Homo sapiens: one gene and its partners. The protein of the gene in region 3 interacts with the protein of the main gene of each other region in a pairwise test. Each region holds a gene or a part of one and is shown on either strand. Other genes may lie near its edges.

The links.
Region 1: the proteins of PAK5 (region 3) and CSNK1D interact in binary tests that used the Homo sapiens proteins (3 or more experiments, as listed by UniProt).
Region 2: the proteins of PAK5 (region 3) and CCNG1 interact in binary tests that used the Homo sapiens proteins (3 or more experiments, as listed by UniProt).
Region 4: the proteins of PAK5 (region 3) and EXOSC1 interact in binary tests that used the Homo sapiens proteins (3 or more experiments, as listed by UniProt).
Region 5: the proteins of PAK5 (region 3) and SORBS3 interact in binary tests that used the Homo sapiens proteins (3 or more experiments, as listed by UniProt).
Region 6: the proteins of PAK5 (region 3) and TSGA10 interact in binary tests that used the Homo sapiens proteins (3 or more experiments, as listed by UniProt).
Region 7: the proteins of PAK5 (region 3) and WFS1 interact in binary tests that used the Homo sapiens proteins (3 or more experiments, as listed by UniProt).

The regions. Positions count from the first base shown.
Region 1 is NC_000017.11:82,246,201-82,249,700, forward strand, and holds part of CSNK1D (casein kinase I isoform delta), read right to left. Parts: exon of another isoform or gene 3,498-3,500; intron 3,403-3,497; coding exon 3,231-3,402; intron 2,815-3,230; coding exon 2,675-2,814; coding exon of another isoform or gene 2,519-2,674; exon of another isoform or gene 272-2,518; intron 266-271; coding exon of another isoform or gene 164-265; exon of another isoform or gene 1-163. UniProt on the Homo sapiens protein: Essential serine/threonine-protein kinase that regulates diverse cellular growth and survival processes including Wnt signaling, DNA repair and circadian rhythms. It can phosphorylate a large number of proteins.
Region 2 is NC_000005.10:163,443,056-163,445,516, reverse strand, and holds the end of CCNG1 (cyclin-G1), read right to left. Parts: intron 1,844-2,461; coding exon of another isoform or gene 1,777-1,843; 3' UTR 501-1,776; downstream 1-500. UniProt on the Homo sapiens protein: May play a role in growth regulation. Is associated with G2/M phase arrest in response to DNA damage. May be an intermediate by which p53 mediates its role as an inhibitor of cellular proliferation.
Region 3 is NC_000020.11:9,566,577-9,570,076, forward strand, and holds part of PAK5 (serine/threonine-protein kinase PAK 5), read right to left. Parts: intron 1-3,500.
Region 4 is NC_000010.11:97,436,007-97,439,506, forward strand, and holds part of EXOSC1 (exosome complex component CSL4), read right to left. Parts: intron 2,698-3,500; coding exon 2,664-2,697; coding exon of another isoform or gene 2,657-2,663; intron 1,745-2,656; coding exon 1,694-1,744; intron 1,270-1,693; coding exon 1,185-1,269; intron 546-1,184; coding exon 439-545; 3' UTR 1-438. UniProt on the Homo sapiens protein: Non-catalytic component of the RNA exosome complex which has 3'->5' exoribonuclease activity and participates in a multitude of cellular RNA processing and degradation events.
Region 5 is NC_000008.11:22,568,927-22,572,426, forward strand, and holds part of SORBS3 (vinexin), read left to right. Parts: intron 1-221; coding exon 222-347; intron 348-1,983; coding exon 1,984-2,295; intron 2,296-2,791; coding exon 2,792-2,895; intron 2,896-3,413; coding exon 3,414-3,500. UniProt on the Homo sapiens protein: Vinexin alpha isoform promotes up-regulation of actin stress fiber formation. Vinexin beta isoform plays a role in cell spreading and enhances the activation of JNK/SAPK in response to EGF stimulation by using its third SH3 domain.
Region 6 is NC_000002.12:99,067,943-99,071,442, reverse strand, and holds part of TSGA10 (testis-specific gene 10 protein), read left to right. Parts: intron 1-2,444; coding exon 2,445-2,555; intron 2,556-3,500. UniProt on the Homo sapiens protein: Plays a role in spermatogenesis. When overexpressed, prevents nuclear localization of HIF1A.
Region 7 is NC_000004.12:6,290,350-6,293,849, reverse strand, and holds part of WFS1 (wolframin), read right to left. Parts: intron 2,654-3,500; coding exon 2,483-2,653; intron 1,934-2,482; coding exon 1,853-1,933; intron 1-1,852. UniProt on the Homo sapiens protein: Participates in the regulation of cellular Ca(2+) homeostasis, at least partly, by modulating the filling state of the endoplasmic reticulum Ca(2+) store.

The DNA of each region.
Region 1 (3,500 bases), on a different chromosome or scaffold from region 3:
TCAGGACGGGCCTCTGGATGAGAGTGGTGCCCACTCCTCTTCTGGAATCACTTGCTCTTAAGGCCAACAATGGCATGGGACAGGCCCTCCTGAGTCTTCTCAAGCACTAAGAAAACCTGATCCCAGCAGGATGGCAGGTGCTGGGCAGCCCCACAACTGGGTCTCAGGGCACAGCCTGAAGGCAGGGGAGACGCACATCCTCGCCGGTACGACGACAGGGCTCAGGCCTAGTCCTGGGCAGGAGTTGATCAAAGCGAGTCATCGACTGTTGGAATGACAAGGCCTTCTTCTCACCAAGTAAAAACCCCAAACAGACTCAGCAACTAGATGGCCTTTAGGGCCCAGGCTACTGTAGCCAAAGAGCCCTGGCCGAACACCAACAGCCCGAAAAGAGAGGGGGCGAAGAGGGAACAGACCCAGGCGGAGTCCGGGCTGGGGCGGGGCCCTACAACTATGGGGGCCTCTGTGACCTACAGGCAGGCTGCCACGTGGTCTTCCACCCATCCACACCCAGCCACGGCCAGCAAGCCCTGGGAGACCTTCCTGCTGCCTCCTCCCATCTCCACAGGGCGCAAGGTCTCCTGAGAGGAGCAGAAAGAACAGGGAAGAGCGACGGCCCGAGGAGGAAGACTGGCCGGGGATGAGTCACTGCCCACGGTGACTGTGTCTCCAGCTCACCCGAGCAAACAGGTGAGGCGCTCAGAGCAATTGAGCCTCCTGTATTCCCCCTTGGGATTCAAAACGGGAGCTGCTGCTCACAGCCACCACGTGTGCTGGTGCTGGCAGAGTCTGGCAGGAAGGACACACGGCCAAAGCCTTCCTGTGAGATGGTGACAAAGGAGGGGGCCCGCCCTGGAGGTGGGGAGCCCTCAACATGCCTCTCAGGAAGGCCCCCCAGGGTGTCCAGGAGCAGAGGCCAAGAGGCTTCTTTTGGAGAGAACACACCCCCAAACCAGCTCTCTCTGGAGACTCCTCCCTGCTGTTAGAGCCCACGTTGTATTTCCTCATATGGAAAACGAGGGCCTAAGAGCCAGCTGCGGGTTCCTGCCACAGCTCACCATGGAAGGAGACACTGCTCACGGCCACCTTGGGGGCTGGTGGCTACAACAGCCACACCCAGGTGCCGCCAAGGCCGTGTACCGAGAAAAGGCAGCTGGACTCAGGGCTGTGGCTACTCAGCACGCTCAGGACACCTTCACTGCCCACAAAGATCCCAAACCACTGGACACTTTACTTTCTTTAAAAGAAACAAAAAGCACTCAGGCCCCTTCCCTAGTCTTTGTCAGCCAAGCGCTGGGGCGAGGCTGTCCAAGTCCGGTCAGCACCCAGCATGGGGAGCACTCTGGGCTCCTGTACCATGGTTCAGGGGCTACAGAGCCAGCCGCACATCAAGACACGAGGGCACGGGCAGACCCTCCCGGGAACTGCTCACAGGAACTGATGCGCAAGTGCCAGGCTCGTGGAAAGAAGCCAGTTAAACCCTTTCTGTGCTGTGTCTGGAGGTGACAGCAGGGTTGTGTGCACGTAAGGGACCCATTCTCGTGACGCAGCCCAGACCCCTCGAGCCCAATTCATATAACCACAAAGTCAAAATAACCACGAAGCCAAAATCCCTGCATCTTTGGTCTCTTTGGGAAGAAGTTATACAAAAAGGTCTGTTTCTAGTGAAATTATTAGTGAATTAGAAACGTGCAGTAAAACCCCAATCATTAAAAGACGGCAAGTGGTCAAGAGTGCTCCCCACTCCGGCATGTTCCTGGCTAGCCAGCTACACCCAGCCCCGCTCACGGCAGCAGGCCTGGCTCCATCCTGTGATCCCAACAAACACCTCCCCACAAGCCCAGAGCCAGGCTCCAGGGCATTTCTGAACTGAGTTCCTGCTCATCCGGAAGACCCGTGGGGGATCTGGGCACCCCCCAGGATGCCTGCTGGTGAAACAGCCCTGCCCCACTAACCCTGCCCCTGTTGGCGAACAACCCAGAAAACTATTTGAAGAAATATAATGGATCCATATGGAGAAAGCTGTTCTAGTTCAAAGAGCACGTTAGCAAACGCAAAAGACAACAAAAGCCAGAGCGAGGAGAGGAGAGACCGCTGCAGGATGCTGAAGAGGCGGTGGCCGTGGCTAGGCCTGGGCTGCGCAACAGGGTACTTCTCGTCCAAGGGAAGACAGGTGAGGCCGTCAAAAGAAGGAAAGCCTCGTTGCAGGGCATGCCACCAGGGAGGGTCTCACAAGAAGCCCGTGGAGGTCCCTACGGGCCTCCATCCCTGGCCAGTGGCAAGAATGAGGAAGAATGAGGAAGGCTCCCTCGGGCTGGGGGCACCCACAATGGGGCGCAAGCAGGCGAGCGGTGTCAGCTGCCTGGGGACGGCTGCGGGCAGCGGGGCACTCAAACAGCAGGAGAAAGCCCCCACGGTTTGCTGGCCTCAGGGACCTGAGACCTGAGACTGGCCACCTGCAACCAGGAGACAAGCCCCATGACGGCCCAGCATGTCTCCCAGGCCCTCCCGAGAAGCCTCATCTGCAACCAAGACGCCACACCCTGGCGAGATTAAAAACTCTCAAAAATGGGGGGAAGAAAGGAAAGAAGAAGCCCTGGAGAAACCACAGCCCGCTCTTGACTCGGACGGGGTAGCCCGAGGCCCAGCGCCCGCCCGGGAGCTCTGCACCTACCTGTGAGGTGGACATGCGAGAGGTATCTTGTCGGCCTGTGAGGTCGGACGAGGAGATGTTGACGGGGGCCCCGCGGTGCAGCCGCATACTCACTTTCCGCTCTCTCTCCATGCCGGAGACGGGCCGGGGGGAGGTGTTAGCTGAGGACAGGGAGAGAAACGGAGTGGGCCGCCCCCGTCTGCTGCCTCTCACTCGGGGCTTTCTATGAGAGGCTGTGGCCAGAGAGGACCCTGGGCTGCCTGGACAGTCAGGACCTGGCTGTGGCCGATGGCCACCAACACTCAGATCCGGCCGGAGGGACACAAAGGGACATGGGAGCGAGGTCAAGGGGCTCACAGGGGAGGAACGTGAGATGCGGGAGGAATCACGCACACCAGCAGGTGCCGGCATTTCTAAAGGCGCCTGGGCAGCCTGGCTCATCCACCCTCAGGAGCGAGCATCGCCTGACACAGGGCACTTAGTGTCCACCACCAAGTACCCTGTTGTCCCCACCAACCCCAAGACACAAGAAGTCACCCCAGAGCCAGCCCCAGAGCGCTGGGAGGGGGGCACTCACCCGTGTGTGAGGTAGGGGTGAGGGGTGTGGGGGGAGCCACTTCCTGCGTCCCCCGCAGGCGGCCGGAGGCTGTGGAAGGGAGGCCGCGGGTAGCCGGGTTCCGCGAGTGTCTCAGCCGCTCCTCTCGGTCCCTGCGCTCCCGCTCGGCGTCATCGGCGGCCCGGCTGGCACCCTGAGGAGGCAGGAGGTGAGGCCGGAATGGAACCAGCTTTGGCAGAAAGCAACCCTAGGTCCTAGGCTGCCCCGGCCACGTGAGAAAATACCTACCAA
Region 2 (2,461 bases), on a different chromosome or scaffold from region 3:
GCGCCACTGCACTCCAGCCTGGGTGACAAGAGTGACCCTGTCTCAGAAAAAACAAAAAGTAAAGTGTCAGCTAATAGTCATACTATTAATAGGGATTTTATTGTTTCTGGTACTATGCATCTAACTTTAGTACTAAATTTAAATATACTGGGTAGAGAGAGCTTTTTATAATGTTTCAGAAAAAACAAAACAAAGTGTCAGCTAATAGTCATATTATTAATGGGGATTTTATTGTTTCTGGTACTATGCATCTAACTTTAGTACTAAATTTAAATATACTGAGTAGAGAGAGCTTTTTATAATGTTTCAGAAAAAACAAAGTAAAGTGTCATCTAATAGTCATATTATTAATAGGGATTTTATTGTTTCTGGTACTATGCATCTAACTTTAGTACTAAATTTAAATATACTGAGTAGAGATAGCTTTTTATAATGTTCTGTTAACACATTGCTAAAAGAGTTAATTAAATCAGAGGAGAAAAAAGCCACCCAGCAAAGGATTGAATTTCATTAACTTTATTGAAAGGTATATCCCTTAGTACTAAAACATAATGGTAGTTGGTTAGTTTACCTCTGCCAACTCAAAATTAACAATGATGTATTCAAAATATTGAAATTTATCAGCCTTTTGGGAAAACTAAAAAGTTACCCATAAAACATGGTTTACAAAAGTTAAGAATAAGATATACTGTGGTTCTTTGGTTTTTCATTGTGTACTGATCCATAACGTGATGTCAAATTGGATATAGCCATCATGGATAGACTCAGGCTATACATTGCACTGAGTAACTGTTTACAACACTTTAACACTGTACTTCTTACATTCACTAACTGCCATGGAGGATCCTAAACACTACTTCAGCAGCTTCATTCATAGTTATGAAGGTGTCTACTTGCTTTTCTTAAGATTTTTGTTTTGGCACAGTAAGGGCATCAGTGGAAGTATATTCTCTATTTATAAAATTGCCATCACTTCTAACTTAAAAACAGTCTGTAGTAAAAAATTCTGGAGTGTTCAATCTAGTCTGAACTTACCTTAGTGTGGGAAAGCAAGTTTTCGAAGTGATAATTTATTTTGAGTTACTAATACAATAGAAACTAGTTTTCTTGATGGGATTCAGTTTGAGGCAGTAGGTTCTGTATAAAAATTTTTATCGTAGATACAAATGTCACCTGTTTTCTAGAAAAAAATATTAAAAGATAACTTAATGAATATGCCAAACTTTATAGGTCTGTATTTTTCTTTATATAAAATGCCCTCAAATTTAAATGTAATTCCCATATAGCAATAAAGTCCACATCTCTAGATTACCTATTACTTGCATTATGGGGTGTGTTTATACTGCCTAGAATGTTAACCCTTATTATGCCTTAAAAGTACATTTGTGAAATGTTGCTTTTGACATAAACCTCATAACTTAAAATTTAAGTAGGAGTAGGATTAGAATAATGACAGTGATTGAAGCTGTGGGAAGACTGATAGTTGATAGTATTAGTGTGACTCCTCCAATAGCATTTTCAATACCACCTAAATATATTGATCCAATATCTAAAGTTAGATCAATGATAGAAATGAAGATTCACAGTTTACCTTCTCAGGCTTGTCATTAGCATTTCACATTTAGGCTTTTAGCTTTGATTTGAATGCTTCACAGATGAATTCAAATCTAAACATAATTCCACTACAGCATAATATTAGGCAGTTTTCCCAAGTCTGAGACCATCATGCTTATCTCGTGATGTTTTGAGGCTTCATAGCTTAAATCCATTGTAACATTATGGAATCCATAGAACAAGGTTGTGGAGAAAGGCTTCAGAGAAGTTTTTTGGTGCTGTAATAATCCTATTTAAATAAAGAAAACAAACAAAATCCAACTTAACAGAAGCCAGTCTGCCTAAATACTACTAAGAAAATTGAAATGTTCATATCTAATATTCATAATCACATGTAGATGTATTAAATGTTAACATTTAGTTTTGAGTAGAATAAATCATCACTGAGTTAGGAAATTTATATGGCAAGAATGTATATCACATATGCAGAAAGCAAGTTTACATTTTTTATGCATATAACTACTTTGCAGTAGTCCAGCTGCTATAGCAATGATAGGTTAGTATAGTGTTGACACACTCTGGCAGTTTCCAGATACCCAATGTAGAGACCATCTATCATATCCTACTTTTTTTCTTTTTTTTTTTTTTTTTGTGGCGGAGTCTTGCTCTGTCGCCCAGGCTGGAGTGTAGTGGCGCGATCTCAGCTCACTGCAAACTCCGCCTCCCGGGTTCCCGCCATTCTCCTGCCTCAGCCTCCCGAGTAGCTGGGACTACAGGCGCCCGCCACCGCGACTGGCTAAATTTTTTTGTATTTTTTAGCAGAGACGGGGTTTCACCATGTTGGCCAGGATGGTCTCGATCTCCTGACCTCGTGATCCGCCCGCCTTGGCCTCCCAAAGTGCTGGGA
Region 3 (3,500 bases):
AGGTTACTTCACGTGTGTCATATCTAAGGTGTACTTGCTTGTTAAGCCCTATTTTCTTGTTCAGTAATGAAAAACCCCATCCCTCATTAAAGGACATTAGTTTTCAGCTAGCATTTTTGGGAGACATTTCAGGGGTAGGAGGCCTTTTCCCATGCTTCTGAATTCACATACTAGAGGGTGGTATGGACATATATGTATAACACAGGTATAACACAGCAGATGTAGGTACAGGGGAAAATACGTCTCCCTGTGCTAAGTGGTGTGAACCACAGGGTGAACATGTGCAATGTTCTCACCAAATAAGTACAAATATAATTGAGAGTGATCAGACTTTGCAGGGGTATGTGTGAAATGAAAATGATGCTAGACCCGAAAGAGATCCCAGCAAAGAACATCCACTCTGACTTGGAAGAGTGGGATGAGGGGATTTATTGGAGGAGAATGGGGAAGCCAGTGAGGGGATTACTGGTATATGATACAATATGTAGGTCCAGCAGTCACTTCCTGGAAAGAATCAGGAAGGAGCTCTGGCCACTCCTGGAATTGCTGAGGCCAGGATGGTAAAGATACCACATCTTGTCATGTGGTATGCTCCTAGCCCAGGGCAGAAAGTGCTAATCCATCAATGCACTCTGTTTTGGAAGATCTCGATGACAACACAGTGCTGGATACATAGAAGGTACTCAGAAAAGATCTGTTGATTGGACTTGAGGCTCTTTCTTAATGCAGTGCCCCAGAAAGTCTCTATCACTCTACTGGGTGTAAATGGAATGGCATTAACTTATCCCACTCCCCTACCATCCACCCCAAGGACCTAGATCTATTCTAATATAGTAGCTACAAGCTACACGTGCCTATTTAAAATAAACAAAAATAGATTAAAAATTAAAAATTCAGTTTCTCAATCACACTAGTCACATTTTAAGAACTCAGTAGTTACCACATCACACAGTACACATATAAAACATTTTCCTCATTGCAGAAAGGGCTATTGGATGGCACTATTCTAGATGAATTGATTGTTCCCATGCAGCACATTCATTCATTTATTTCAAAAATTAATATTTGAGCAACTATGATGTGCTATGCACTGTTTTAGGTGTGAGGGGGAGGGTCCACCAACAGTCAAAATGAATGATATCTCTGCCCTCCTGGGGTTTATGCTCCAGAGAAGGAAATAGATAATAATAAAGAAAACCAGTAAATATACAGTGTGTGTTTCAGTAGTAATGAATAATATTAAGAAAAATAAAGCAGAGTGAGGGGGTTGAAAGTAATGAGATGCCATCTTGGATAGGGTAGTCACAGAAGGACTCTCTGAGGGGGTTCCGTTGGAGCAGAAGCCTGGCTGAGTGAGGGAAAAAGCAAGATCCCTTTCCTAGGAGGGGTGGTTTGGGCAGTGGGAGTGGCACATGCAGGATTCTGAGGCAGATCCAGGCTTAGTTTGTGAGGAAGAGCAGACGCTCAGCTATAGTGGAGTGTGTCCACTAAGGAAGATGGGCCGAGAAGCTGCCGGGGGACAGATCATGAAGACCTTGGCAAAGACGTTGGCTTTTGCTCCGAGTGAGGTGGGAAGCACTGGGGGTTGCTAAGCAGACAGGAATGACACAGTCTGACTCTCTGGCTGCTGGAGGAGAGACTTTGGTGGCAAGAGTGGAAACAGGGATGCCAGCAGCTTATCACAGTTAATGTGGGCTGAGATTAGGGTGGTTATTGTAGATGGGGTGAGAAATGGTGAAATCTAGGGCAGGATTTGAAGATGGAGCTGACAGGATTTGCTGATGGATTGGGTGAGATCTTGAAAGACAGGAATCAAAGATGGCTATCAGGATTTTGGCCTAAGCAACAGGCCATTTAATGAGATGAGGAATCCAGGGGCAGGAACAGGGCTTGTGGGGTGTGATAATCAGCTTCCAAATTGCTCTCAATGACCTGTGCCTCCTGACATTCATATTCCTATGTAGTCCCCTTCTACACTGTATTGGGATCAATCTGTGTGATCAAAGAAAAAGGCAGAGATGATGGCAAGTTCCTTTGCTTTCTTACATCATTTATTTTGGCTTTCACCAGCTGCCATGTCATGAGGACACTCAAGAATCCTTTGGAAGGGTTGGGTGCAGTGGCTCATGCCTGTAATGCCAGAGCTTTGGGAGGCTAAAGCTGAAGGATCACTTGAGCCCAGGAGCTCAAGGCTGCAGTGAGCTATGATTGCACCACTGCACTCCAGCCTGGATGACAGAGTGAAACCTTGTCTCAGAAATAATAAAAATAATAATAATAATAAAATAGAGAGGTCCATGCAGCAAGAAACTGAGGACTCCTGCTAAGAGCTAGCTAGAAATTGAGGCCTTCTGGCAAACAGCCATGTGAGCCATTCTGGAGGTGGATCCTCCAGGTCCAGTTGATCCTTCAGATGACTGTGTTCCTGTTTGAAACCTTGACTGCAACCTCATGAGAGATTCCAAGACAGAACCAATCAATCAGCTAAGCCCTCTCAATTTGTGACCTACAGAAACTGTGAAATAGTAAATGTTTGTTATTTAAAGTTTAGGGGAAATTAGTTGAACAGCACTATTTTTTGCTTCATGAGGCAGTTTGTTTTAAGCCATGAAGTTTTGGGATAATTTGTTATGCAGCAATATTGATAGCTAATACATGGTGGAAAATTAAGAGTTCTTTTAGCCATGTAAAGTTTGGGAGAGTGATTAGACATCCATGTGGAGGTGTCACTTAGGAGACTTAGGCATGCCCCAAGTCCAGGGAAGAGTTAAAGCTAAAGACATGAATCTGAGAGTCATCGGTGCTTAGTTCATATTAAAAGCCATGATACTGAATGTGTAAGAGATGGTCTGAGGACCCCAACGTCTAGATACCAGAAAGAGCAGAGGGATCTTGCAAAAGGGAGCAGAGAAGGAGTGACAAGTGCTGTAGAAAGGAAACTAAGGAAGCAAGGTGTCCTGGAGCCAAGGGAGGAAAGTATTTCAAGAAGGAAGGGCTAATGAATCCTGTCAAATGCCACTGAGAAGTGGGATGGGGCATGTTGCTCATTGGATCTGGTGACATGGTAGAGGCAAGCAGGTGTTTCAAGCTCCTGCCCCACCACGATGCATAAGAAGGTAGTCATTCTATCACATCATGGAGCAATAACTGCACACAGTGGGCTCTTTAAAATTGCTACCATAGCACCATTCTCAGTCCCCCAACACTGCCCATTGGTTCTACAATGACAGTGCCTGGCCTGCTGAACATTCAGCAATGCAGCCCTTCCAGCTTCAAAAACACTACACTTTACTAGGTGAATTCACCACTCAGACAGCCTTGGCATCAACCAGCAGGAACCAGGGTAGCTGCTAAGCTGCCCTCCTGCCCTGGTTGCAGAGAGAACACATGCTTTTGACGGGCATAGGAATGAATTCTGACTGATAATTTTAGTCAAGTCAACCTCTCTGAGTCTTAGTTTCCTTCTGACTCTGATAATTTTAGTCAAATCAGCCTCTGTG
Region 4 (3,500 bases), on a different chromosome or scaffold from region 3:
ACCTAAATGAAGGGGACGTATGTAAAGCACCTGACTCAGTGCCTAGCACAGTAAGTACTCAATAAGCAGAAGTACTGAAATGTCCTGACACCATTTAGATGTCTTTCTCTGCTTAAGACAACAGACTCTATAACATCCTTTTAGTAAAAAAGTTTTATCATAGCAAAAAATATGTATTTATAAGGACTGTCAGGAGGGATAGGCTATTTCCAATATCACAGTTTTGTTTGTTGGTGCCTTGAAAAGATAAGATTTATTACTCAAGAGAATGAAATCCACTGATAGGTTCACAGAAACATGTTCCATCTACAGCGTAAACTGGAAGATTTTTCTGGAAGTGGCTGTTGGCCGACGCCAGGTGTTTGAATAAAGACAGCAGCATCTTGGTGTTATACTCAGGAACAGCTTACCCCCTTCCATAGGGTAAAAAGTGGCTTCTTAGGTCTGCAAGAATTCGGGTTGTACTCGGGCTACTTTCCGGAATTCTTTAGTGTGGGTCTTAGGGCACTGCATCTCACACCAGCTGATGGGAACCATCTGGATACCTGGAAGGGAAAAGCTGGTGGTGGAGCCCAGACCCCAAAGATTTGCCTGCGACTCCTCTTTTATGCTGGGTATGAAGCTGAAGTGCCACCAAGCTTCCTACTGAACCTCAACTCATAAAGAAAAAACTTTGTTCATTCTACTGACTTATGAAGTGAGTCCCGTTTCCTTGGATTTATATAAGGAGAATCAGGCTGGGCGTGGTGGCTCACACCTGTAATCCCAGCACTTTGGGAGGCCAAGGCGGGCAGATCATTTGAGGCCAGGAGTTTGAGACCAGCCTGGCCAACATGGCGAAACCCTGTCTCTACTAAAAATACAAAAATTAGCTAGGTGTGGTGGCGTGTGTCTGTAATCCCAGCTACTTGGGTGACAAGAATTGCTTGAACCAAGGAGGTGGAGGCTGTGGTGAGTGGAGATGGCACCACTGCACTCCAGCCTCCTCGACAAAGTGAGACCCTGTCTCAAACAACCACCACCACCAGCACCAAGCAAAAAAGAAAAAAATAATCATTCTAATCTCAGAGGGAAATATCTATAGCCATACTGCTTCCCAGATAAGGGAAACCAGGAAAAACAATGGATTTATCCCAAACCATAGATCCAGGGAAAGTAAGGATGTGGAAACAAGGCCATCTCACCTGACTCACTGTGGGCTACCACCACTCCCAGCTCGTTCTCGGCGGTGGTTAGCAGGTAGTTGGACTGTGCATCACCTAAGGAGATCTAGTCACATAACACCGGTGAAGGAAAATGAGGAGTTAGAAGTCTTCCCCCACCTTAGCCACCTGAGTTGTTTTTCTACCTTTTTTTTTTTCTGAGATGGAGTCTTGCTCCGTTAACCAGGCTGGAGTGCGGTGGCGTGATATCAGTTCACAACCTCTGCCTCACAGGTTCAAGCGGTTCTCCTGCCTCAGCTTCCCGAATAGCTGGGATTACAGGCATGTGCCACCACGCCCAGCTAATTTTTGTATTTTTAGTAGAGACAGGGTTTCACCATGTTGTCCAGGCTGGTCTCGAACTCCTGACCTCAGGTGATCCACCCGCCCTGGCCTCCGAAAGTGCTGGGATTACAGGCATGAGCCACCACACCCGGCCTCCTTCTCTTCTTTTGACAAAGGACCAGAAGTCTGCTGGGAATAAAGGATACCACTTTGGCCAAGACAATGTCACCTGGGCGGAAACTCTTATAAATTTCAACCTGTAAAGAAAGAACAGGAATGTTAAGTGAAAGCTCTAGACTGGGTCTATATGAAACTGTGAACGCTTCTGGTAAAGCCAATCTACTTTCTAATCCTGGAGGGTAGAAATCATCATTACTCATGTCAAGTCAAGAACTTTTAATTGCTTCTACAGTATTATCATACAAATGAAAATTTTTTTTTTTTGAGATGGAGTCTCGCTCTGTCGCCCACACTGGAGTGCAGTGGTGCGATCTCGGCTCACTGCAACCTCTGCCTCCCGGGTTCAAGCGATTCTCCTGCCTCAGCCTCCTGAGTAGCTGGGATTATAGGTGCATGGCACGACACAGGCTAGTTTTTATATTTTTAGTAGAGACGGGGTTTCACCATGTTGGTCAGGCTGGTCTTGAACTCCTGACCTTGTGATCCGCCCACCTTGGCCTCCCAAAGAGCTGGGATTACAGGTGTGATCCACTGCACCCGGCCCTTTTTTCTTTTTTTTTAAGAGGTGGGATCCCACTGTGTCACCCAGGCTGGAGTGCAGTGATGCAATGGTAGCTCACTGCAGCCTTGGACTGCTGGACCAAGGGATCCTCCTGCCTCAGCCTCCCAAGTAGCTAGGACTACAGGTGCGTGCCACCACTTAACCTCAAACTCCTGGGCTCAAGCAATCCTCCAGCCACATCCTCTCAAGCAGCTGGGACTACAGGCATGAGCTACCATGCCTGGCCAATTTTTGAATTTTTAAAATTTTTGTAGAGACAGGGTCTCGCTATGTTGCCAGGGCTGGTCTTGAAGTCCTGGACTCAAGTGATCCTCCCGCCTCAGCCTCCCAAAGTACTGGGATTACGGGTGTGTGTGACCATGCCTGGCCTGAGATAATACTTTTAAGGGATTGAGATACGTAAAGCCATTAAAAAAAAAGAACCAACCAACAACCTTGTCTTTTTCAGTTGCTCGGACATCTTCCTTGCTATAAAAAAAGAATTAACAGAAAGATTAATTACCTGTGAGAAAGAATTTTTTTTTTTTTTTTTTTTGAGACAGAGTCTCCCTCTGTCACCCAGGCTGGAGTACAGTGGCGCAATTTTGCTCACTGCAACCTCCGCCTCCTGGGTTCAAGCAATTCTCGTGCCTCAGCCTCTCAAGCAGCTGGAATTACAGGCACGTCCGCCATGCCCAGCTAGTTTTTTGTATTTTTAGTAGAGATGGGGTTTCACCATGTTGGCCAGGCTGGTCTTGAACTCCTGACCTCAGGTGATCCACCCGCCTCAGCTTCCCAAAGTGCTGGGATTACAGGCATGAGTCACCTTGCCCAGCCTGTGAGAAAGAATTATTCTGTAGATTCCTAGTAAATAAAGAGCTACAAGAACAGACAGAACAAGTTGTAAATGGGACACAGCTGCTACCCAGAGGAGCAGGGTGGAGAAGCATCCTCAGACCACATGGAGAGGCAGTATCAATACCTCTGATTAGATAAAGGCAGATCGGATTTGGCAAGAAAGGATAAGGAATTTCGTTGCCTCAGGGCTTGAACAGAAGCACTATAGCAAGGGCCCCCAACTTCTGGTGGCCTGTGAGGAACCGGGCTGCATAGAAGGAAGTGAGTGGCAGGCAAGCTTCATCTGTATTTACAGCTGCTTCCCAATCGCATACATTACTGCCTGAGCTCCGCCTCCTGTCAGATCGAAGTGGGCATTAGATTCTCATAGAAGTATGAACCCTATTGTGAACTGCACATATGAGGGAGCTAGGCTGCCCACTCCTTATGAGAAT
Region 5 (3,500 bases), on a different chromosome or scaffold from region 3:
GGAAAATTCTTCTTCCAGGGAGCGTTCCCAGACTCCTCCCCATCCTCCAGCACCCTTTGGCTGTGCCCACCCGTGGCTGCCCCCAGGGCTTGTGTCTGGTGTTTATATCTTTTCTCTGCCTAGGGGCGGGCCCACCTTCTCTTTGCTGTCTCACAGGAACCCCCAGCCTGTGCTATGTTGATGCCCAGGCCAAATCTTTCTCATGACCTTTCTTCATGCAGGTGCTGCCCGCAGATGAGATCCCTAAGCCCATCAAGCCCCCGACCTACCAGGTGCTGGAGTATGGAGAGGCTGTGGCCCAGTACACCTTCAAGGGGGACCTGGAGGTGGAGCTGTCCTTCCGCAAGGTGGGCCAGGCCGGAGACGGAGGGGTGGGTGGGGGCAGGTGAAGATGTAGGTAAATATGTGCACTAAAAACAGTTTTTTTTTTTTGAGACAGAGTCTCACTCTATCGCCAGGCTGTAGCGCAGTGGTGCCATCTCGGCTCACTGCAACCTCCGCCTCCCGGGTTCAAGCAATTCTCCTGCCTCAGCTTCCCGAGTAGCTGGGACTACAGGCACGCGCCACAACACCCAGCTAATTTTTGTATTTTTAGTAGAGACAGGGTTTCACGATGTTGGCCAGGATGGTCTCAGTCTCTTGACCTCATAATCCACCCGCCTCAGCCTCCTAAAGTGTTGGGATTACAGGCGTGAGCCACCGCGCCTGGCCTAAAAACACTTCTTTAAAAAAGAGTCCGATGTACCTAGCTTCACCCAGGATTTCAAAGTTTTCCCCAGTCTCTTTCATTATGCTTCCTTTAGTGTAGTGGCTTTTTTTTGCTTTTTTTTGAGACAGCATCTCACTATGTTGCCCGGGCTGACCTTGAACTCCTGGGCTCAAGCGATCCCCTGTCCCTGCCCCAGCCTCCCAAGTAATTTTGGTCCATTTTTAAAAGATCATCATAAACTTCTAGAGTTACATATATATTTTTTCAACTGCAGGTTGCAGGGGATCATACTCAGCATTTTTAAAGGTATAGACAGAAATGTTAGCATGCGTTGCGAGCAGAAAGCACTTTATCATACCGTAGGCAGTTCTGTGTATGCACATATATATGTATTCTGGGCTGTTATTAAAACATTTTTAACTGTAGATTGTGGTGAAACAAGTTTGAAAAATGCTGTTCTAGAAAGCAGGGAAGTGGTCTGCCTTTGGTTGATTTTGGGAGCAGTGATCATGCTCCCAAAATAAGCGAAAGACGGCCCATAGTGAATGCCTCCCAGAAGAGCTGGCCCCAGGGACAGAGGGGGAAGAAGGTGGCTGGATGGAGACAGATGGGGGCAGGAGAGGACAGGGGAAGGCAAGGGCTGGAGGCCACCCTCCCAGGGGGTGGTTCTACCTAATGTCAGCCAGCCTGTGGCCTTCAGGACTCCCTGCCTGTCCTGGGGAGTGTGTTTTTGACACGCTCATGACAAGGTCCCCCAGCGTGAGGCAGGAACAGGACCCAGGCAGGGCAGTAGTGGTAGCACCTGTCCAGTGTGTCTAAGGAGTGGACTGTTGATCTCGTTCACACCTCATAGTGACAGTATGGTTATTTTCACTTAACATAGGAGAAAACAAGGCTCAGAGAGACAGAGCAGGCTGCCTGAGGCCACACAGCTTGGCCTGGTGGAGCTGGGTTTGGATCTGTATTATTAGCCACGGGCTCACCTGTGATCGGAGCTCTGGGGAGGGACCTTGCTATGAACGCCGAAGGGGGATGCACACCCGTTGAGCTTCCAAGAGGCAGGACCCAGTCTCAGCCTCAGCCTTGCCTGGGCAGCCTGGGCTTGGCTCCTGGCTCCTGCTCTTACCGTGTGACTCGGGTAAACTGCTGGCCCCCTGCGATTCCGACCCCTCGTGTGTCCAAGGTGTTAGGGTTGAATGAGACAGCCCAGATAAGGCACCCGTGGGTCCATGGCACCAGGAAGGCCCCACAGACACTGACTTTTCCCCCCTCAGGGAGAGCACATCTGCCTGATCCGCAAGGTGAACGAGAACTGGTACGAGGGACGCATCACGGGCACGGGGCGCCAAGGCATATTCCCTGCCAGCTACGTGCAGGTGTCTCGTGAACCCCGGCTCCGGCTCTGTGACGACGGCCCCCAGCTCCCCACGTCTCCCCGCCTGACCGCTGCCGCCCGCTCAGCCCGTCACCCCAGCTCCCCCTCAGCCCTGCGCAGCCCAGCTGACCCCATCGACTTGGGGGGACAGACCTCCCCCCGTCGCACTGGCTTCTCCTTCCCCACCCAGGAGCCTAGACCCCAGACCCAGGTGAGGTAGCCTGCCTCCACCAGAGAGTCGACCTCCTCCTCACCCCTCATCCCCCACCCCCGTGACTTGTCCACACTTGGGACTCCTTCCCAGACAGCCCTGGGACATAGGAGTGGGGTGACAGGGCAGAAGCTAGTATGGCAGCCCCACCCTGGCCTGGGGGACCTCAACCTACCGAGCTCTAGCCGAGGGAGCTCTAGATGGAATCCCAAAGCCGGCCCAGGCTCCTGACCCTGGGTGTTCTTGGTTCATCCATGCTGGCGTCCAGAAACCCAGGCACTGACCTTACTTGGGCCTCAGTTTTCTGGCCCCTGTGAAATGAAATAGTCACAGCAGGTGTCCCTGTGCCCTGGGGGTTTGGAGGCTAAGATGAAGCCGTTTGTAAGGCGTGCTGGCAGGTGGACTGGGAACGCCCATTTTGGGCCTCCTCCCTCAGGCTTACATGTACCCATCGTCTTCCTCCCTCTGACATCCCTTTCTTCCTGTCAACTCCCAGAATCTTGGCACCCCTGGTCCAGCTCTGTCCCACTCTCGAGGTCCCAGCCATCCCCTGGACCTGGGGACCTCCTCTCCTAACACCTCTCAGATACACTGGACCCCGTGAGTACCATCTGAGGGCTCTTGATCAGACGTGGGGGGGGTCACTGGCAGGCAATGCCCCATATTCCACCCTCCCCCAAGTCCCCACCTGTGGATTTGGGAAACTTCTACCAGGTAGCCCTTGTCCTCGAAGAGCTTATGGTGATTTGGGGCAGGGAGGAGGCGCTGGTCTGTGATGTTCCCAATCCCTCCTGGCAGCTATGTGGCCTTGTGGCCTTGGTCTCCTCATTGGGTTTCTAGCCCTGAGGTCGGTGCATGTATAATTGAAGTGTGGAACTGGTGGAATGGACAGGAAGGCACCAGGTGCTCAGAGGAGGCGAGGGTTCAGTGCTTAGGGCCCAGAGGGCAGGAGGCAGGCCTGGGAAAGACTACGGTGAGCACAGGCTGAGTTGCTCTGAGGAGCTGGATCAGGGGCTAGTGAGAGCATGAAGGGACCCTGGGGCATTCACAGGAAGCGGCAACACTTGGGTTAGAGCCTCTGGGCCCATTCTCTGGTTGCCATGATACGCTTCTCGCAGGTACCGGGCGATGTACCAGTACAGGCCCCAGAACGAAGACGAGCTGGAGCTGCGCGAGGGGGACAGGGTGGATGTCATGCAGCAGTG
Region 6 (3,500 bases), on a different chromosome or scaffold from region 3:
AAAAAATGAGAATAAAAACCTTGAGAAACCTTAAAGAAAAGAATAGGTGTTTTTTTTTTAAAAAAATGGACTACATATTATTCTGTTTTAAGTATGAATGTATGGACTGTGCCTTGTTTTTTGGTTCTCATTAGCACTGTGATTCTTTTTAGGAAAGTTCCTCTTATAATTACTCTTTCTCCCTAAGGCAATATATTTAAGTCTAATCTGCAGTTCTCATTTCCAATAACATTTATTTTAACGTGAACATTTAAAAATCCTATTTGGAAAATTTCTTCCCTTCTCAAAATTTTTAAGACCAAATGGTTTTCCCCACTTTGTATCACTTTCAGTGTGTTTAGTTTGCATCCTGAAAGTCTGTGTTCTTTAACTGTTGAAGATTATTAATTTACTTAAACAGCTATAAAGCTGTAATACTTTGTTAATCATAAAAAATTATCTGAGATGTTAAAGTATTTTGTTTAAAAGTAAATGAATAATGGGATCCTGGAATAGAAAAAGGACATTATGTAAAAAAGGAAAGAAATCTGAATAAAGTATGGACTTCAGATAATAATGTGTCAATATTGGCTTATTAATTGTGACATATGCACCATACTAATGTAAAATGTTAACAATAGAGGTGCCCTTTATAATGTCTTCACAACTTTTCTGTAAATCTAAAACTATTCTAAAAGTTTATTTAAAAAATTAATGAATAGCAATAAAAACCAAAACATGGGAATTTGTAAGGTTTGCCTTTGTGTACTCTTTACAGCTAGAGCATATGGGCTAAAGGTGGATATATCTTATTTATGAAAACCTAGAAATTTAGTTTCTATTTTTTTGATTGGTTTAGAAATAGAAGCTTATTATAGAAAGTCTTTTTTCTAAACAAAAAGTTAAGAGTTTAGAAAAGCCCCCATGTTTTTGATACTCAGTTACTGTTATATTTGACATATTTTTTTAATTGCTATACAGTGCACTTAAAAATTTTAACACTATTTTTATACACATTTTCTAATGTAGTGGGATAAAATCACCTATCACTTTAGATCATGCTTTTTTCTACATGAAGAGGCAGTAGAGTCGAGTAAGATTCACATGGGTTGAATCTTGCTCTCTGCGTGTGTGATCATATAAACCAACTTCTCTGAGTCTCTGTAGCATCTGTAAAAATGGTTAATAAGTGAGACTATACCTGGAAAGCACTTACTGTACTGTCCAGTATATCACTCAATAAATATTTTATAGCTATTATTAGCTTACTATAATATTGTAAGCATTTTCCTGCCTTGTTCAAACTTTGTAAACATTTTTTATAATCAGAAGAAAACTGTTGTCATAACAATTTACATATGCTCAAAAGTAGTTTTTTCTTCGTTATGGTCATAGGCCCAAGGTAGAAGAGAGGTCTCTCTCTGTGGACCACAGGTTAAGAACCAGTATTGCAGAAGACGAGAAAGTGGAAACTTAAAAAAAATTTATCCTTGATACCACAATTTTTAACAAATTGGGATAATGAGGTATTTTTGTGTTTTAGCACGATTTTTTTTTCACTTAACATAGGCAAATATTTCCCTGTATTATTAAAAATCATTCCAAACATTTCTCACAGGTATGTAATATTCCATTATGTGGTTATGCCACTATGTAGATATACTATTATTTACTGCATGATTCACTTAATGTGAATAAATATTGTCACTGTAACAAATGCCTTAATGACAGCATCTCATTAAATTTTATTAGATTTCATTTCAGAGTGAATCACAGATTATCAGGTTTCTTTTTAATTATTATTTATTTATTTATTTATTTATTTATTGTAGAGTTGGGTTCCCACTATGTTGTTCAGGCTGGTCTCAAACTCTTAGGCTCAAGTGATCCTCCCAAAGTGCCAGGATTACAGGAAAAACACCCAGCTGAGGTTTCTTTTTTAAATTAAAAAAATGTAAATAGACATTTTCAAATATAATGAATCCCCATGTGCCATTTCCCACCTTCAAAAATAATCAACATTTTTGTCTTTCTTGTTTTTATGAGCATTTAAAAATTGTCTCTTGATACATCACCAGATTCCTGATCACAGATTTGCTTTCTGCAAATCTACATTTACTCCAGTAGTACATGGAAATGCCCATTCTTTACCATAGCTGAATAGCTTTAAATCTTTATTAATTTGATAAGCAGAATAGTAATGTGTTGTTTTAATTAGCATATCTTCAGTTGCTAGTAGAGTTTTTTTCAGGTCTTACCTACTTATGCTTCCTTTTTTGAATTGCTTATTTGGGTCATTTGCCCACTTGCTATTGGGCTTATGTGTTTTCTTTTTTTATATGAGTTTATATATTAGGTATGTTAATTTTATTTGTTCCAAGTGTTTAAAAATTTGTTTATGGTATTTTTGAGATATAGAAATTTTTTATTTTTCATAGTCAAATATACCTATCTTTTTTTCGTAGGCACTGTCCAAAAAATTGAATGACACTCATAATGAACTTAATGACATAAAACAGAAGGTTCAAGATACTAATTTGGAGGTTAACAAGCTGAAGAATATATTAAAGTCTGAAGTATGTATTTTTTTTTTCTTTTTGCTCATGATACTTAGTTTTCACTAGAGTTAATTTAGAAGTTGGTATACTCAGAACGACAGGTGAATCAAAGCTTTCTTTAATACATAGTATATTTTAGTTTTGACAATGGTGGGTTAACTACATATTTAGAATGTTCAGAAAGATGCCTGGAGAATATGCCCCTTTTGTTTTGCAACTCTGCCACTCTAGACAAGCAGAATCTTCCTAACTGGATGATGGACAAAGGGCTAAAATCAATTTGACCTCGCTTATAATTAATTGAAAGTGGTGGGGTTTCCAGTTATAAACCTCTGACAAAAGAGGTTCCACCTGATTATGTAGCAGATCAGAATTGGTTACCCTGTTATGGGACCATCTATTTTTTTTAGGACCACAAGGCAGATGGTTCTCCTCACACTTCTCTGTTAGCAATCATTTGACCAGGCACATGTACATGACATCAGATGACTCCAATAAGTGTGGTGCATGTGTGGCAACTCAGGAATAAACAGGCAGCTTTACTGAGGATTTTAGATATGTCTATTAGGTAAAATATTATCTAAAATTGAGGGAGGATGTTCCCATTAATGGTTTGAGTGGTATGTAGGTAACACTATACCTATTATAATAATCAATCCACCTATACTATTTTATCATTTCATGTCAGTCCACAAACATATCTTGAACATTTATTTATGGTATGCATAGTACTGTTAAGGGCTTTGAGACAGAAGAGATTCTAAGGATTTCTAAATTGCAATCCTTGCTTTCAGGCAGCAAGCAGCCTGTGTAGGAAAAGCACGTGGTTTCCTACACTTCCTGATTTTAAGGTTCCAGCAATGTAATACCATAAATGAACAAAAGGCTTTTTATTTATGCAGGCTACTCAGCCTCTCTGATTCTTCCCATCTGTAATCGGGAAGAACACCCAAGTAAGTGAGA
Region 7 (3,500 bases), on a different chromosome or scaffold from region 3:
GGGTTCAGGACGGCGTCTGACACACGAGAGTGGTCACCAATGCCACCCACACATCTCCCTACCAGAGCACAGTCCCTACGGGAAGACCCTGGTCCCCACAAGGAAGGCCCCTGTCCTCATAGGGATGAATACCTTGGGCAGGATGTCCTGTCCTGAGAGACAGGACATCAGTCTAGGGACCCCAAGAAGGAGCAGCCAGTGTGGCAGCAAGGGCCCCGGGCCTGGTGGGGGAGAGGGCTCTAAGGAGAAGAGCAGTCATCTCTGCCCACGCTGCTGACAGATCAAGTCAGACAAGGACAAGAAGTGACTGAGCAAGGGGGGTCACTGATGGCCTAGACGAGCCGCTTTGGTGGAATAACATGGCAGAGGCCTGAGAGCAAAGGACGGAGGACGAGAGAAGGGGATGACAGACGCCCCTTTCTGGGAGTTCTGTTGGAAAAGCTGGCAGAGAAACAGATGATGCCTGATGGGAACGTTCTGATAGAGGGGAAACAATGGGGGTGCTGGGGCCCTGTCCCTGAGGGCCTGGCGGAGGGGACCACAGGCTGGCAGCGCTGACTCCTAACTCGCCCCCAGCAACAGCGACAGGGCCCAGCAGCAGGTGTGCCCGGCTCATCACAAACCCCTGTGGGACTGGGAAGTGAGGTTGGGGTCCAGACTCTGCCTGCAGTGCCCCCCAGGATGGAGACCCAGGCTGGGCTGCTCCTGCCCAGAGGCACCTCACTTCAGGACAGCAGGCACCATGCCACCTCGGTGGCAGGACACTGTCACAGCCTCTCTGGTCCTCGGGCTTCCTAGAGTCACAGATTTCTTCCCACTTCCATGTGAGGTGTTTCTTTGTCTCCCCCAAATGGAGCAGGAAAACAGCAGCGCAAGCACCCATGTCCGCCCACGCAGAGGCGAGGGCTCTGACCACACCCTATGGACGGTTTCCTCACGGGCCCAGTGGGAAGGTGGGATCTGTGCTCCCACCTGTACTCTGCCCTACATGCCACAGAGGCTTCTAGGATGGGCGAGGTCCTTCAGTCCCCTTGTCTGATCATCTCACTGTTCAGAAGGGGAAACTGACACCCAGAAAGAAAAATGAGACCTGCCCATGTCACAAGAAGAGTCTGTGGCAGACCTGGGTCTTGGCCCATCCCCCCATTGATACTGAGCCCCCAAGCCTCCTGCCTGTCTATCTTCTCCAGGACAGGAGCTCCCAGTGCCTCAGACTGCAGAGTCTACCCCACGTGGATGGAAGACAGTGAGGCTGGCCAGCTGCACGTGGAGGATGTGACGTCTCTTCTCAGTCTTTGACCACAAACATCCCAGAGGCACCCCCAGCTCAGTGTGCCCCAGAGACTCTATCCCCCAACCTAGGCTCTGCCCACTCTGTTCCCTGCCTACCTACAAAGGGCCTACGCTGGGGCAGAGCCCCTTCCACACCCTGCTGGGTCTCCTGGGCCTTTGCTCATGCTGTTCCCTCTGCCCGGAGCCCCTTCCCCTAATGCCCTCCTCATCCTTCCCCACTCAGGACCCCCCCGCCAGTCCCCACCCCCAGTATTTCCTTGTCCAAGAGGGACTGGCACATCATGGTTTCTGTCCTGGGTCTGCCTTCCCTCCAGTGCGTGCGCTCCAGGTGGGCAGGGTCTACTCCCAGCGTCCAGAACACTGAGCCCCAAACGGACCGCCTGAGATCCTAGCAGGGCCAGGATGGGGTCGCACAGGAAGGAGAGGTCGCCCTGCAGGCGCAGGCTGGGAGGCACGGGTGAGATAGGGCAGGCCAGGATGGAGTCGCACAGGAAGGAGAGGTCGCCCTGCAGGTGCAGGCTGGGAGGCATGGGTGAGACGGGGCAGGGGCTGCACTCACACTCGCTGCTGACCAGGCGCTCCAGCATGCGCCTCTGCTTCTGCAGGGACTTGGGCACGGGGCCTGGCTGCGCCCCTCCATCTGCAGGGGACAGGGTGGATTAACAGTCAGACAAGTTGACTATCTCCTCGTGCCCTGCAGCCCACCAGAAACTGGCGCACTGTTCCTAGGGCACGCCAGTTCCAGGGGCATCCTACGTTCTGGGGATCATAGGGCCCCCAGGGCAGGCAGAGCAGGGGCCACACCTCTGTACCTCCAGTAGCTGGGGTGGACTCAGCACCACGTAGCGTGCTCCCACTTGGTGATGGACACAGTCCGTCCCATTGGTAGACGTGGTCACAGAGCACTGGGCAGAATACCCTCTGGTTTATTCAATGAGTGAGCACTTGAGCCAGGGCAGATGCTGTCAAAATGCCACCCACACACCTCACCACTAGGGCACGGTCTCTACAGGAAGGTTCTGGTCCCCTGGTCCCCACAAGGAAGGGCCCTGTCCTCACAGGGAAGGTCCCGGCTCCTGTGGGAAGACCCAGCCCCTGAGGGAAGGTCCCAGCCCCTATGGGAAGGTCCTGGCTCCTGTGGGAAGGCTGGCGCCCAGGGAAGGCTGGTGCCCAGGGTGAATCCTCGCACCGTGCTCGTTGACCTGGCCGACATTCTCCAGCAGCTCCGCCACGGCCACCTGCTTCTTCTTCTTGGGGTTGAGCTTCCAGTACATGACCAGGGCTGCCTTGCGCACGGCCCTCTCCAGGTCGGTCTCGGAGGAGAGCTGCCTCACCTCCCGTTCGTTCTCGGACGTGATGCCTGAGGGATAGGATGTGGTCAAAGGCCTTGTGTGCCCTGCCTAGGCTTTCGGTGCCACTCTGACCCTGCCAACTCTGCCTGGAAGGCTTTCGAGCGAGACTCATAGAAGGTGTCAGGACTTGGTTACCAGGGAAGGATGCATGGACATCTGACTCAAGAGGACATCGCGCCACGCCCACTCTCCAGCTGGGAGGCCAGACTGGTCTCCCACCAGACGCCCCCAAGTGCCCCCTACATGCTGGCGGGAAGAAGGCAGCCTCTTCCTGTTCCTCCCCTCTCTCAGAGGTGCAGACCCGGAGGCACAGGCCTGTGTTCTGGCTCACTCAAGGTCACACAGTCAGAAAGAGGCAGAGCTGTCTTGAACCCAGGGTGGACTCACTGCAGTCACCAGCCTGGGTGCACTGGCAGGGCCACCCCTGTGTCTACAGAGCTTTCCTCTGTCTCACACACAGCCCAGCCCTTTCTAAGGAAGGCTTGGACAGCGGGGAGAGGGAGAGCAGGTTTTACCGCTGGTCAGCAGCTGCCTTCCTCCCTTTACCCCCAACGGCCTGGGACACTGGCACAACCAAGCAGAGGGCAGGAGGACTGGCACGGGGGTCTGGATGTTTTTCTCCTTTTGAACATTTCCAAAATTTTCCACATGAGCATGTATTTCTTTTCAAATCAGAAAGCACAACTGCACATCAGAAGGTGTGTGCAGCTGGGGGAACACGGGGCCAACCGGCCTCCTCCCTTGCACGCTCTGCCCCAGCAGCCTCTGGGCTATCCCTGGCACCCAACAATGAGCCGTGTGGGCCGCCTGAGCCCCCTCCAGGTCATTCCAACTGCTCTGGAATCAGCAGGCTGG